Homo sapiens: one gene and its partners. The protein of the gene in region 1 interacts with the protein of each later gene in a pairwise test. Each region holds a gene or a part of one and is shown in the gene's direction. Other genes may lie near its edges. The genes, in order: LIF, NCALD and HPGDS.

The links.
Region 2: the proteins of LIF (region 1) and NCALD interact in binary tests that used the Homo sapiens proteins (3 or more experiments, as listed by UniProt).
Region 3: the proteins of LIF (region 1) and HPGDS interact in binary tests that used the Homo sapiens proteins (3 or more experiments, as listed by UniProt).

Annotation. Positions count from the first base shown.
Region 1 is NC_000022.11:30,245,198-30,248,947, reverse strand, and holds the start of LIF (leukemia inhibitory factor isoform 1 precursor), read left to right. Parts: upstream 1-2,188; 5' UTR 2,189-2,252; coding exon 2,253-2,271; exon of another isoform or gene 2,272-2,443; coding exon of another isoform or gene 2,444-2,780; intron 2,781-3,750. UniProt on the Homo sapiens protein: LIF has the capacity to induce terminal differentiation in leukemic cells.
Region 2 is NC_000008.11:101,789,656-101,793,405, reverse strand, and holds the start of NCALD (neurocalcin-delta), read left to right. Parts: upstream 1-2,436; 5' UTR 2,437-2,544; intron 2,545-3,750. UniProt on the Homo sapiens protein: May be involved in the calcium-dependent regulation of rhodopsin phosphorylation. Binds three calcium ions.
Region 3 is NC_000004.12:94,336,094-94,339,843, reverse strand, and holds part of HPGDS (hematopoietic prostaglandin D synthase), read left to right. Parts: intron 1-3,750. UniProt on the Homo sapiens protein: Bifunctional enzyme which catalyzes both the conversion of PGH2 to PGD2, a prostaglandin involved in smooth muscle contraction/relaxation and a potent inhibitor of platelet aggregation, and the conjugation of glutathione with a wide range of aryl halides and organic isothiocyanates.

The DNA of each region.
Region 1 (3,750 bases):
GCCTTAGTGTCAGTGTCTTCTAGACCCTGTCCTCACTTCCTGTTTCCTGTGGGGTGGGGCTGAGATTAAACAGCGATTGGGGGTGGATTATAGGGCTGATGTGGGGTCTGGCTTGCCAGAAGGCATGCAAGGGCCTGGGGGTCCGCTTGGAAGGATGCAGGGGAGACTGGGCAGAATGGTAGATGTAGGGGCAGCTGCAGAACTCTTGAGCCTAATGAGAGACTCAGGCCGGGCGACGGGGGTTTGATGGGTGGAGGCCACAGTGAGCCCCTGGTCACATGGATTTGGGGTCCATGTCAGGAGAGCCAGGCTGAGTCAGGTGGCAGGGGTCTGGGTGATGTGGGATGGGACTGGGGACTGGTCCAGAGCTCACGTGCTCTGAGTGGTCAGGTCCTTGTGCAGGAGATGCTGGGGGAGGTGTAAGAAGAAGGGTTGAGCTGGGGTGTCCTGGGATGTGGGGTTACCTGAGCCAGGCCAGGGCAGGTGAGTCTCCTAGTAGTGTACGCTGACCCCAGAGCAAGTGTATAGGAGCAGTAAGTGCCAAGTGGGGCCCTCCATGGTCCCTCAAAGAAGAGACAAGGTGTGGGGTGAGAGGCAGGAAGGAGGAAGGAGAGCCAGTTCGGGAAGTGCCAGCTGGGATGGGCAGTTTTATCACCTCACATCCGAGGCCCTGCTGGGAGAGAATGGGGGGCAAGAGCGTAGATAAAGCAGGGTGTGTGTGTGGTGGGGAACGGCAGCAGGCACCAGGGCTCGTCCTGGCACGATGAAGGAGGAACCCGTGGCTGGGCAGGTCTGGGATGTGGCAAGAGGCAGGAACTGGGGGCATGGAGGATGGGCGAGGGGGCGGTGGGGGCCCGGGCGAGGCTGCAAGAGCTCCCTGGCCTTGGAAAACCAACTCACACACCTTGATCTCAGGTCAGGGTCAGGCGGAAGGGCTGGGAAGGGGCCACAGGGGACTAAATCATCTCCTGGTACTGGGGGTCCCCTGGCAGCTTTAGGGACGGCATGGCCCCAGACGCGTGGCCATGCTGTCTGGCCGGCATTCCCGCATCTCATAGGGTGTATTTATTTTCACTTTTCTGTTGCATTTCTTGGAGGTGTCCCTGTGCTCATTTTGCCCGGCTCCCCACTGCTCCTTTCTGCCCTTCCTCATTCACAAATCGCCTGGCCTCAGAAGACGCCAGAACATGTGACACTGCCTTAGAGCCTCTAGAAGCACTTTTTGGGGACCTCCATCATTCTCTGAGGCTGGGCTCAAAGGGGCTTCCAAGGCAGGTCTGGAAGGGACCAGCCACTTCTCAGTTTCCCCAACCATCAATCAGCACCCGGAGGAGGAAACTGGGGTACGATTTCGCCAAGCCTCTCTCAGTCCTGCTTCAGAATGGAAATGCTGGACCGCCTTCCCAGAAGCACCTTCCCAGAGTGTCCCGACAGAACTGAGTCAGTCACCCCTACCCCCATGTCTTCCTAGCCCCTTCCCCAGCCTCACAGGTACAGTGGTCAGCAGGGCGAGTGCACTGGTGGTGTCTGGAGGCCTGACCCTCTGGGGCCCTGGGCAACGTGTTCCCCTCGGAGCCCCTTGGGGCCCAGTGGCAATGTGCAGATTGGAGGAGGCTACCTCTGGGGTGGCTTCCAGCGCCCATGTTCAGTTCCACTTTATGACCGTCTAAAGTCCACGCCGGCCCCGGCCCCTCCTCCTGGAGCCTCCTTCTCAGCCAAGCCCTAGCCCTCCTCCTCCCACTGCCCCCCTAAAGCCCCCCAACCAGGGGGCACAGGGGCCAGTCTCCATCTGCTAGTCCAGACTCGCTACCTCCCCAAACCCAGGTGAGTCAGGGCCGTCTGGGGCGCCCACTGCTGGGACCCCTGCTGACTCGGCCAGGGGCCCCCTCCTGGCGATGCCCATCTTCAGACAACTCCCGGGACAAGCCAGGCAGGAAAACCACAGGGCGTTTTGTCGAAGGCTTCATTATAATTTTATCAATCAAATTCTTAGAAGAGGGAAAAAGTCTGTTCTCCCCACCCTCCCCCCTCACTCGTCCCCCCCCTTCACTCTCACTTTCTTCCATTCATAATTTCCTATGATGCACCTCAAACAACTTCCTGGACTGGGGATCCCGGCTAAATATAGCTGTTTCTGTCTTACAACACAGGCTCCAGTATATAAATCAGGCAAATTCCCCATTTGAGCATGAACCTCTGAAAACTGCCGGCATCTGAGGTTTCCTCCAAGGCCCTCTGAAGTGCAGCCCATAATGAAGGTCTTGGCGGCAGGTAAATACACCCGCCCCGCGCCGGCTTCGCGTCCCCGCTGCGGGGCGCGGCGGCAACTTGGGGCGCTTGGCAGCGCGAGCCGGACGCCCACCCGCCGCAGACACACGAACACTTGGGGCGCCCGCGCAGCCACCGGAGGCGCTGGGTGGCGGCCCGGAGCGAGCGCGGGCACATGGTCCCAAGCACCGCACGCCCCGCGGCAGGTTGGCGGCGAGGGAGGGGGCGCCGAGCCTTCCTCCTCCTCCTCTTCTTCCCCCTCTCCTTCTCCTCCTCCTCCTCCTCGCTCCGGACACTCGCTGGCTGCTCTTCCCTCTGCGCTTTCTCCCAGATTCACTCTCCCTCTCTCTTTTTCTTTTCTTTCTTTCTTTCCGCTTTCTCCTTTCCAACCGCGGTCCCGGGCTGCTCCCAGGGAGGGGCGCGGGCGGCGAGCAGCTTGCAAACTCCGGCCTGGGACGGGAGCAGGTGCCGCCTCCATCTGCTGGTGTCTGGAAGCGTGTGGTCTGCGCTAGGTGAGATATAGGGGTGTGGCCCCCCTCCCGCAGCCACCCCGGGGCCTCAGCACTGCCTTGGGATGCTGGGACGAACAGGGGACCCAGGAGAAGTGAACTTGAGGAGGCCCCTGTCCCCGCTGTTCCAGCATGGGGGATCCGGGGGAGGTCTCCAGCCTCACTCGCCCGCTGACCCCGGCCCCCACCATCTTCAGGTGCCCTTCTGCAGAGCCCTGGAAAAGCGTCTAAGGGGGCCTGGGGGGAGTCGGGAGAACAGGCCCCCCTGGGGGAGGGGCAAACCAGGACATGTCGGGACAGCTCCCAGCTCTCCTGTCACCTTTCACTTTCCTTCCTCCCCGCCCACCCGACTGCCTATGACCTTTTGCCTTTTCTCTCTCCTGGTGCACCATTTCCTCTCCCTCCCTGAGCCGGTGTGTGTGTGTTAGGAGGGAGGGGAACCCCTGGGACAAGGGACAGCGGATGAGTCGGGAGAAGGCATGGAGTCAGGGGCTGTCCGGAGCTGGGGGAACAGAGAGTTTTGAATGATGATTTGGGGATGGAGAGTGGGGACAGCCAGGCAGAAATGGGGTGAGCTTGAGTGAGATAGGGGACACTAGGGAAGGAAGAGATAGAGGATGATGGGGGCGGGGGCAGAATTGGGGGCAATTGGCCCAGGGAGCCAGAATCAAGTGGCAGGTTTGGGAGGGAGATGAGGGTCAACCGAGGACTCCTCCCCACTCCCCCATGCCCCGTGGCCCCCATGGGTGCCTGGCTTCGGAGATTTGGGCTGCAATGGGCCAGTGAGTGGGAAGCGCTGCTGAGGAACCTGGGCCACCACGGGAGGTGGGAAGAGAGGGGTCTCCTTTCTCCTGGTGCCTGCTGGGCCTGGGGCCTGGTGCCTTCCAGCCAGAGGGCCAGGGGGCCTTAGGACCTTTGCCTTCCTGAGGGAAAGGGTGGGATGGCTGGGAGTCTCTCCTGGACCCTGCACCCT
Region 2 (3,750 bases), on another chromosome or scaffold:
ATGCACCCACTTTTCATTTTGAAGGTCAGTTCACTGCATTTTTTTTTTTTTTTTTTGAGACGGAGTCTCACTCTGTCACCCAGGCTGGAGTGCAGTGGCATGATCTTGGCTCACTGCAACCTCCACCTCCCAGGTTCAAGCGATCCTCCTGCCTCAGCCTCCTGAGTAGCTGGGAATACAGGCATGTGCCACCATGCCTGGCTAATTTTTTGTATTTTTAATAGAGACGGGGTTTCACCGTGTTAGCCAGGATGGTCTTGATCTCCTGACCTTGTGATCCACCGGCCTCAGCCTCCCAAAGTGCTGGTATTACAGGCGTGAGCCACCATGCCCAGCCAGTTCACTGAATATTTTAATAGTTCACTGAATATTTTAATACTGCCCAAGGCAGTATAAAGTATACTTAGTCTTAAAAATGCTAAACCAGTCAAAGTAAAAGTGTTGGTTTTTTGCTAATTTTCAAATTAATCCATTTAAAGTCCTGAATTTTAGGCATTTTTTTTTTTTTTTAGAACTGAGAACTTCTTATTTCAGAAGACATCACCTATTAGCAGAATGTGGCACTGCAGTTTTTCTCTCTTAAATGCTAAAGCTGCATAAAGAGGAGGAAGAATTAATTAGGCAGCTATGGATTAGAGCCAGAGAGATGGTAAATTAAGCAGCTCAGAGAACGTGGGTCCAGGGAAAGCTAGAAGGGTATGTTTCTCTGCCTCTTCCGGTTCCCTCATTTGTATGATGTGCATTTCTGAACATAAAAGCAGAACAATAATTGGAACAAATTGTCAGTTTATGAATTGTGGCTGTTGGTGAAATCTGCCCCTAGTGAGGCTTTAGGTAGACATTGGATTCCATTGTCCTTGTTCAAACAGGTAAATTCCCAGCTGTCATTAATCTGAAATTAAAGGAGGAAAGTTCCTTATAGTTTGATTTCGGTTTTGCAGTGCCACAGCTAATCGCATCAGGAAAATAACTTTTTAAATAAAAATCTATCTTTTCTCCCAATTGGGGCTGGGACAGAAATAAAGGAAGATGAAAAGGAGGATGGAGTAGGACGATTCTATGACCAAGTGATTTGAACATTAGTCTTATTATTAAAGAAGCAATTTCTGATTCTACTAAAGAAATTTCATTCTTTTACAGTGACACAAATGTAATCTGCCTGGCTGACTTAGGTTCCATTTATATTTTGTAGCACCCCAGAGCTACTCTTTTTTATTTATTTATTTATTTTAAGAAACAGAATAGAAGTCGTTATAAGCCTAGCATATAAAGGTCCTTAGGGTTTTGAGGGCAGTCTCTTCTCCCCTGCCTTTTAACTCCTTGTCCTTTGTTTGGGCATACATTTTCTGAATGTCTTTTTCAGAGTACCTTCTTGTGAGTTTCATTGATTTTGTTTAATCGGCTTCCCATTAATTAAGAAAGAGAATTAACTGGGAAATAGGCACGTGTGCAGAGTTAAAAGTAAGCTAGGGTCGTCGTAAAGGAAATAAAGCTGATGTTAGAAAACATGTGAGATAACCCTTTCATTCTATGGCTCTGGGCTTTCATTACACTTTGTGTTTGTGGAACACTGGCCCTGTTTACTCAATGTTGAGTCTCAGCAAAGGGGTGTGGATGAGAGGACTCAAGAGGGGAGCATTTGGCACCCGTATGGCCCCAAAGCACAGTTTTCAGCTTACTCACATGGTTATTTTAAAGTAACACTGTTTTGAAACTCCTTCGGTCCTCATTTTTACCTAGACATTTTACAGTACAGGAATCCTGAATTTATGTTATCTGATGTCTACATCCTACTTGGTGTCAGGATCATTAGACTGTCTTACCTGTCTCTGAGTCATAAGCCACTGTCATGAACCCAAGCCACTGTTTTTTATTTTTCTTTCCATCACAAGCATGGTCTCAGTATATCCATGTAGACTCTGATATAGTTTTTAAAATACATTTTCTTCCAACCCCTCCCCCTGAGCTTCTGTTTTTATATATTTGCTTGCAAATAAGTTTAATTGGCTAAGAAAACTACTCCAGAATTTTTCAGTTTCTTTCCTTTTGTTATAGAGAAAGAGAGAGAGAGAGACATGCTTCATGCTGATGGTAGTGAAACAAATGAGAACTTCAGGGTGGCATATATTTTCCTGCAAGTAACTGTAGAGAAAAGACACCAAAGCCTTAAAGAGGAAAGTTGTAGGCATTCTGGAGTCACAACTTCGGGGGTTGAGGTTGTCAAGGAGCTGTCCGTGATGGTTCTATGGTGTGTGCGTACACACATACTCTCTCTCTCACACACACACACCACAGTGACAGATGACCTATTGAAATAATTTCAGAGCCGGTCTGTGGTTGCTACGACAACCAATGATCTCTTGGCTTTCATCTGGCCATGTGACAGGGACTTTGACGTCAGCTAGAGGCAGAGTCTGTGGCTGAGTCCACACAGTCAAAGGCTTGTGAGAATCTGGTGGATGCTGGACCTTGCTGCTGCTGCTACTGCTGTTTCCAGGGGCTGCAGAGCATGGACTGTTAAATCTTGCACTTCTTCTGAGTGAGGTAATTAGTTTGCTTTATATACAATAGTTAGATGTTTTTATAGCTCATTGTGGTTTTCCCCTCTCTCTTACCTCCTACAAGTTTGTATTCATGAGCAATTATTGTTGTACCAAGGGGAAAATGTGAAGCAGCTTCTAGTTGTGAATTTCAGGCAGGTTCTCTGGAATTTGGTTAAATTTGGATTAATGTTTTGTGAAGTAGGTTAAAATATAATCGTCTTGCTTGCTCAACACTTGCTAACATAACATTATTTAGACATACGGATTTTGCAGCTTGAGCCAAATATTCTCTCTTGAATTCCAGGAATCCTCCCTTCAGTATTGTTTTGGGTTTAAAAACTCCAGCATAGCCTTGCAATGTGTTTCTAACTTTTCTTTTTACAATTGCTACTCAATTCTGAATCAGCCTAAAATAGTTTGGAATTTGGTTTCTATCTTGTTTGCAGCATTCATATTTAGCAACAATAGGAACCACGGGAAATAACATTATAACTGAAACAAAAGTTGGGATTTTGCTTGTAAGTAAAACCTTTGGTATTCTGAAAGTACCAGGAAAAATTGTCAACAGTTTCCTGTTTAGAGAGAAATAATCGGGAATATGCCAAGGAAGTTGGGGTGGAACCTTTTACATGTGTGCATGCAATTGCTTTTTGGTTGTTAGAGCAAAGTGCATATTTCCAGTATCCTCCCCTGAAAATTCAGCTGTGAAGAGAATGGCATGAGGTGGTCTTTACTAAGGAGTCATGTAAGCTGTTGTTATTTTTAAAAATCGTCATAATTACCTAAAGAAAAAAACAATAGCCCTAAAATGAAAAGTATCATTGACACAAGTTCTACTTTAACTCAAACACAGATAGAAGTAGTCACTCACAATTTGCTCTGGATCTTAAATGAATAATTTGATAACTGTGATTAATAAGAATTTTTATCTCTTTATTCCTATAATACTATTTACTACAAATTGTTTTCTTTGTATTGTAGTTCCTTTCCTTCCCAAGTTTAGTAATTTCAGATTTTCTTTCATGACATACAGGTTGAATTGTTTTGGAGCTTCTAATTTAAAGAATACCTGTAGTACTGAAGTTAGCCAAAGTCTAGATTTATAACCAGGTGTCTAAATCTTACAAGTTTAACAGAAAAAGGGGCAAATTTTAGAGCACTACATGTAATACAGCTAGTATTTTAATTAGTAGAAGAAACTGGTTTA
Region 3 (3,750 bases), on another chromosome or scaffold:
ATGGGGGAAACCGCCCCCATGATTCAATTATCTCCCACCGGGTCCCTCCCATGACAAGTGGGAATTATGGGAGCTACAATTCAAGATGAGATTCTGGTGGGGATATAGCCAAACCATAACAAGCATTCTATAAAGTAAAAAAAAGCTACAAGAAAGAAAGAGAAAGAAAGGAAGTACCCAAGATAGTACTTTAAAAACACTGTTATTTCCCATATAAAAGAGCTTATTTCCTAATGCATATATTAATATTAAAAGTTAAATCTTCTGCAGTGGATAGCTATGTTCATATGAGTTTATATGTCTAAGTTTTTATCCAGGGTATTTATTAGTCGTTTATGTGTTCTTTGATAAACCGTATAGGTTATTTTTCAAACAGAATTCTAAATGAGCTTTTTATCTATCTGCTGAATTAGTAACTTTACACGATATACTTTGGGGTGTAAGGAAGCCAGTGGTTAATTTTAGATGCAAAGATCTTTAGATGTAAATATCTTCAAACACAATCAGCTTTTAAACTTCAGGCTTCTGTATCATTTCAGGAAACATGCAGTTTTCTCTACATGAGATTCTTAACACAACGACAGTGGAAGGGTTCAGAAATGAAGCTAACAGGAAATAAGGGACCAGAATGATACTGCAGTTTTGCTATGCTAGTCAAATCATACCAAGATAACCTAGATGTTATTTCTGTGTTTGATAGAAAGTTGGGGTCTAATTATGCTTATTTTCCCTCTATTGTCTCAGAACCATTTTAGTCTAGTTTCAGTCTCAGAACCATTTAGTCCTCACTCTATGTCATGTCTGTCCTATATATGAGGTTCTGTTTTAAGACAATGCACCTCTGAGCAAATACCGCATTACAAGGCTTTTTATCTAAGTCTTGCTATCTGGTACATCAGGTCCTCCTCTCCTGTTCTCTTTTTTTCTTTGTCTTGGCTATTTTGGTCCTTAGCATTTCCATTTGAAATCTAGGATCCAGTTTATCTGTAGAATCTCTCGAAGTTTAAATATAGACAATCATTTTGGACACAGCAAATGGATGCTGTGTCGCTCCCTTCCTACTACTTAACAAATGTTATTTATTGTTGTCTTACATTATTGAATTAGCTAGGCTGTCCAGCATTATGCTGAATAGTAGATGTTATAGTGGGATTCTTGTTACTTCTGACATTAAAGAAAATGCTTTTATTGATTCACCATTATGTATTATATTTGCTATAAGTTTTTAGTAGAGACTCTTTATATGGTTAAGGAAGTATTCTTCTATTGCTAGTTTGATAAGAGGTATTTTATTTTGTTTTTTCATTTTGCTAAGAATTTTGATCACAAATGAGTGATAATGTTATAAATGCTTTTTAAAAGCATTTAGTATCTATTGAGATGATAGTATGTTTCATGATAATTCTGTTTCTTATTTTTGAGAGAGAGTGTCTCACTGTCGCCCAGGCTGGAGTGAAGTGTCGCGGTCTTGGCTCACTGCAACCTCTGCCTCCCAGGTTCAAGCAATTCTCGTGCCTTAGCCACCTGAGTAGCTGGAATTACAGGCTCACACCACCACATCCAGCTAATTTGTATATTTTTTTGTAGAGACGGGGTTTCACCATGTTGGCCAGGCTGGTCTCAAACTCCTGACCTCAAGTGATCTGCCCGCCTCGGCCTCCCAAAGTGCCGGGATTACAGACGTGAGCCACTGCACCCGGCCTGATTTTTCTCTTTTAATGTAGTTTATTATACAGATGGATGTTCTGATATAACATCTGGTATTCCTGAGACAAACAGAAAATATAATTATGCAAATAACTACAGAAATGTCATGTAAAAAGTACAGCTTCATTAATGAGTTACAACTGTTGAAAGAATATTTTAAAAGGAAAGATAAGCATTTGTTAGCTGCTATTGGGCCTCTGCCAAATCTTAGACTTCAAGATATTTTTGCAGAGAAATATAGATAGCTACCAACCTATGCTGAGAATTTTTAAATGTCTTCTTTACTTGAGTGAAATACAATATAAAATAGCATGATTTTGAAAATTAACAATAATAAAAAACAATCACTTTGTTTTCATGCAGAATTCAACAGGTGGACACTGGTATCTATGTGGTAATTGACTGAATGAGAAAAGGTTGTATGTTTAACTTTTAATGCTGTTAACTTTTTTTTCTTTTTTCGAGATGGAGTCTTGCCCTGTCCCCCAGGCTGGAGTGCAATGGCAGGATCTTGGCTCACTGCAACCTCTGCCTCCTGGGTTTCAGTGATTTTTCTGCCTCAGCCTCCTGAGTAGCTGGGATTACAGGCGCCCGCCACCACCCCCAGCTAATTTTTGTATTTTTGGTAGAGACGGGGTTTCACCATGTTGGCCAAGCTGGTCTCAAACTCCTGACCTTGTGATCTGCCTGCATTGGCCTCCCAAAGTGCTAGGATTACAGGCGTGAGCCATGGTGCCCCACGTAATGCTAATAACTTTTAATATTAAAGGGAGAAAATATAATTTCTTCATGCTGTGGAAACATTGACTATGCCAACAAAACCAATAAAAAGTTTTATATAGAATGCTTTTCAAATAGAAGCTGCAGGCTGGGCACAGTGGCTCACGCCTGTAATCCCAGCACTTTGGGAGGCCAAGGGGGGTGGATTACCTGAGGTTGGGAGACCAATCTGAGACCAGTCTGGCCAACATAAGTGAAACCCCATCTCTACTAGAAATAGAAAAATTAGCCAGGCATGATGGTGCATGCCTGTAATCCCAGCTACTCAGGAGGCTGAGGCAGGAGAATTGCTTGAATCCAGGAGGCGGAGGTTGCAGTGAGCCCAGATTGAGCCACTGCACTCCAGACTGGGGGACAGAGTGAGACTGTGCTGCAACAAAACAAAACGAAACAAAACGAAACAAAACGAAACACCAAATAGAAACCACAACTAATAATCAAACTTTTTCCACTCTGTAGGCTTTTAAAAATTGTTTTGATATTTAAAACAAATACGTCCAGGAATTATAACTATCATGCTTTTCCTGGATAAGAATAATCTCTTAATTATTATGTTTTTTATTTACTATTTTCGTGCTCTTAGACCTTTTCCACTATTTATTTCTAAGCTCAACATTTCTAAGTAACCTGGAAAACAGTTCCATTGTTCTGATGGGCATTTCATTTAGTCTCCCAAATTTGAACTCCTTTATATGTATAGTTCTCCCTGAAAGAAATTTATGGCTGTAAATCATGGAATTCTTATTTATTTAGTCAATTCTTGTCTCTTTCAAGGACATTTCCCCACATATCTATATATGCGGTGAATGCTACATCTCAGTTGGGTGGGGACTGGACTGGCTGATGCAAACTGGGCAGGAATGATTGGCAGTAGCTCTCTCGTTTTAGCAAGGAGCACCAGCTTCACTCCACAACATCTGGACACAGAAGCCAGGGCCAGAAAAAATGGTTTTGCTAGGAATTACCATCACCGTCACTTCCTGAACCTGGGAGCTTCTAGATAGGCAACCAGTTATTTCCAGGTCATCCTCTTCCCACTAGACTCCAGGAATATATAAACTTAAAGTCAAGACTTGGCAAGCTAGATTTTTATGATTCGTGTTTAACCTTTTATGTGGTGTGATTTCTTTCTTTCTTTTTTTTTTTTTTTTGAGACGGCGTCTCACTCTGCTGCCCAGTCTGGAGTGCAGTGGCGTGATCTTGGGTCACTGCAACCTCCACCTCTGGGGTTCAAGCGATTCTCCTGCCTCAGCCTCCTGAATA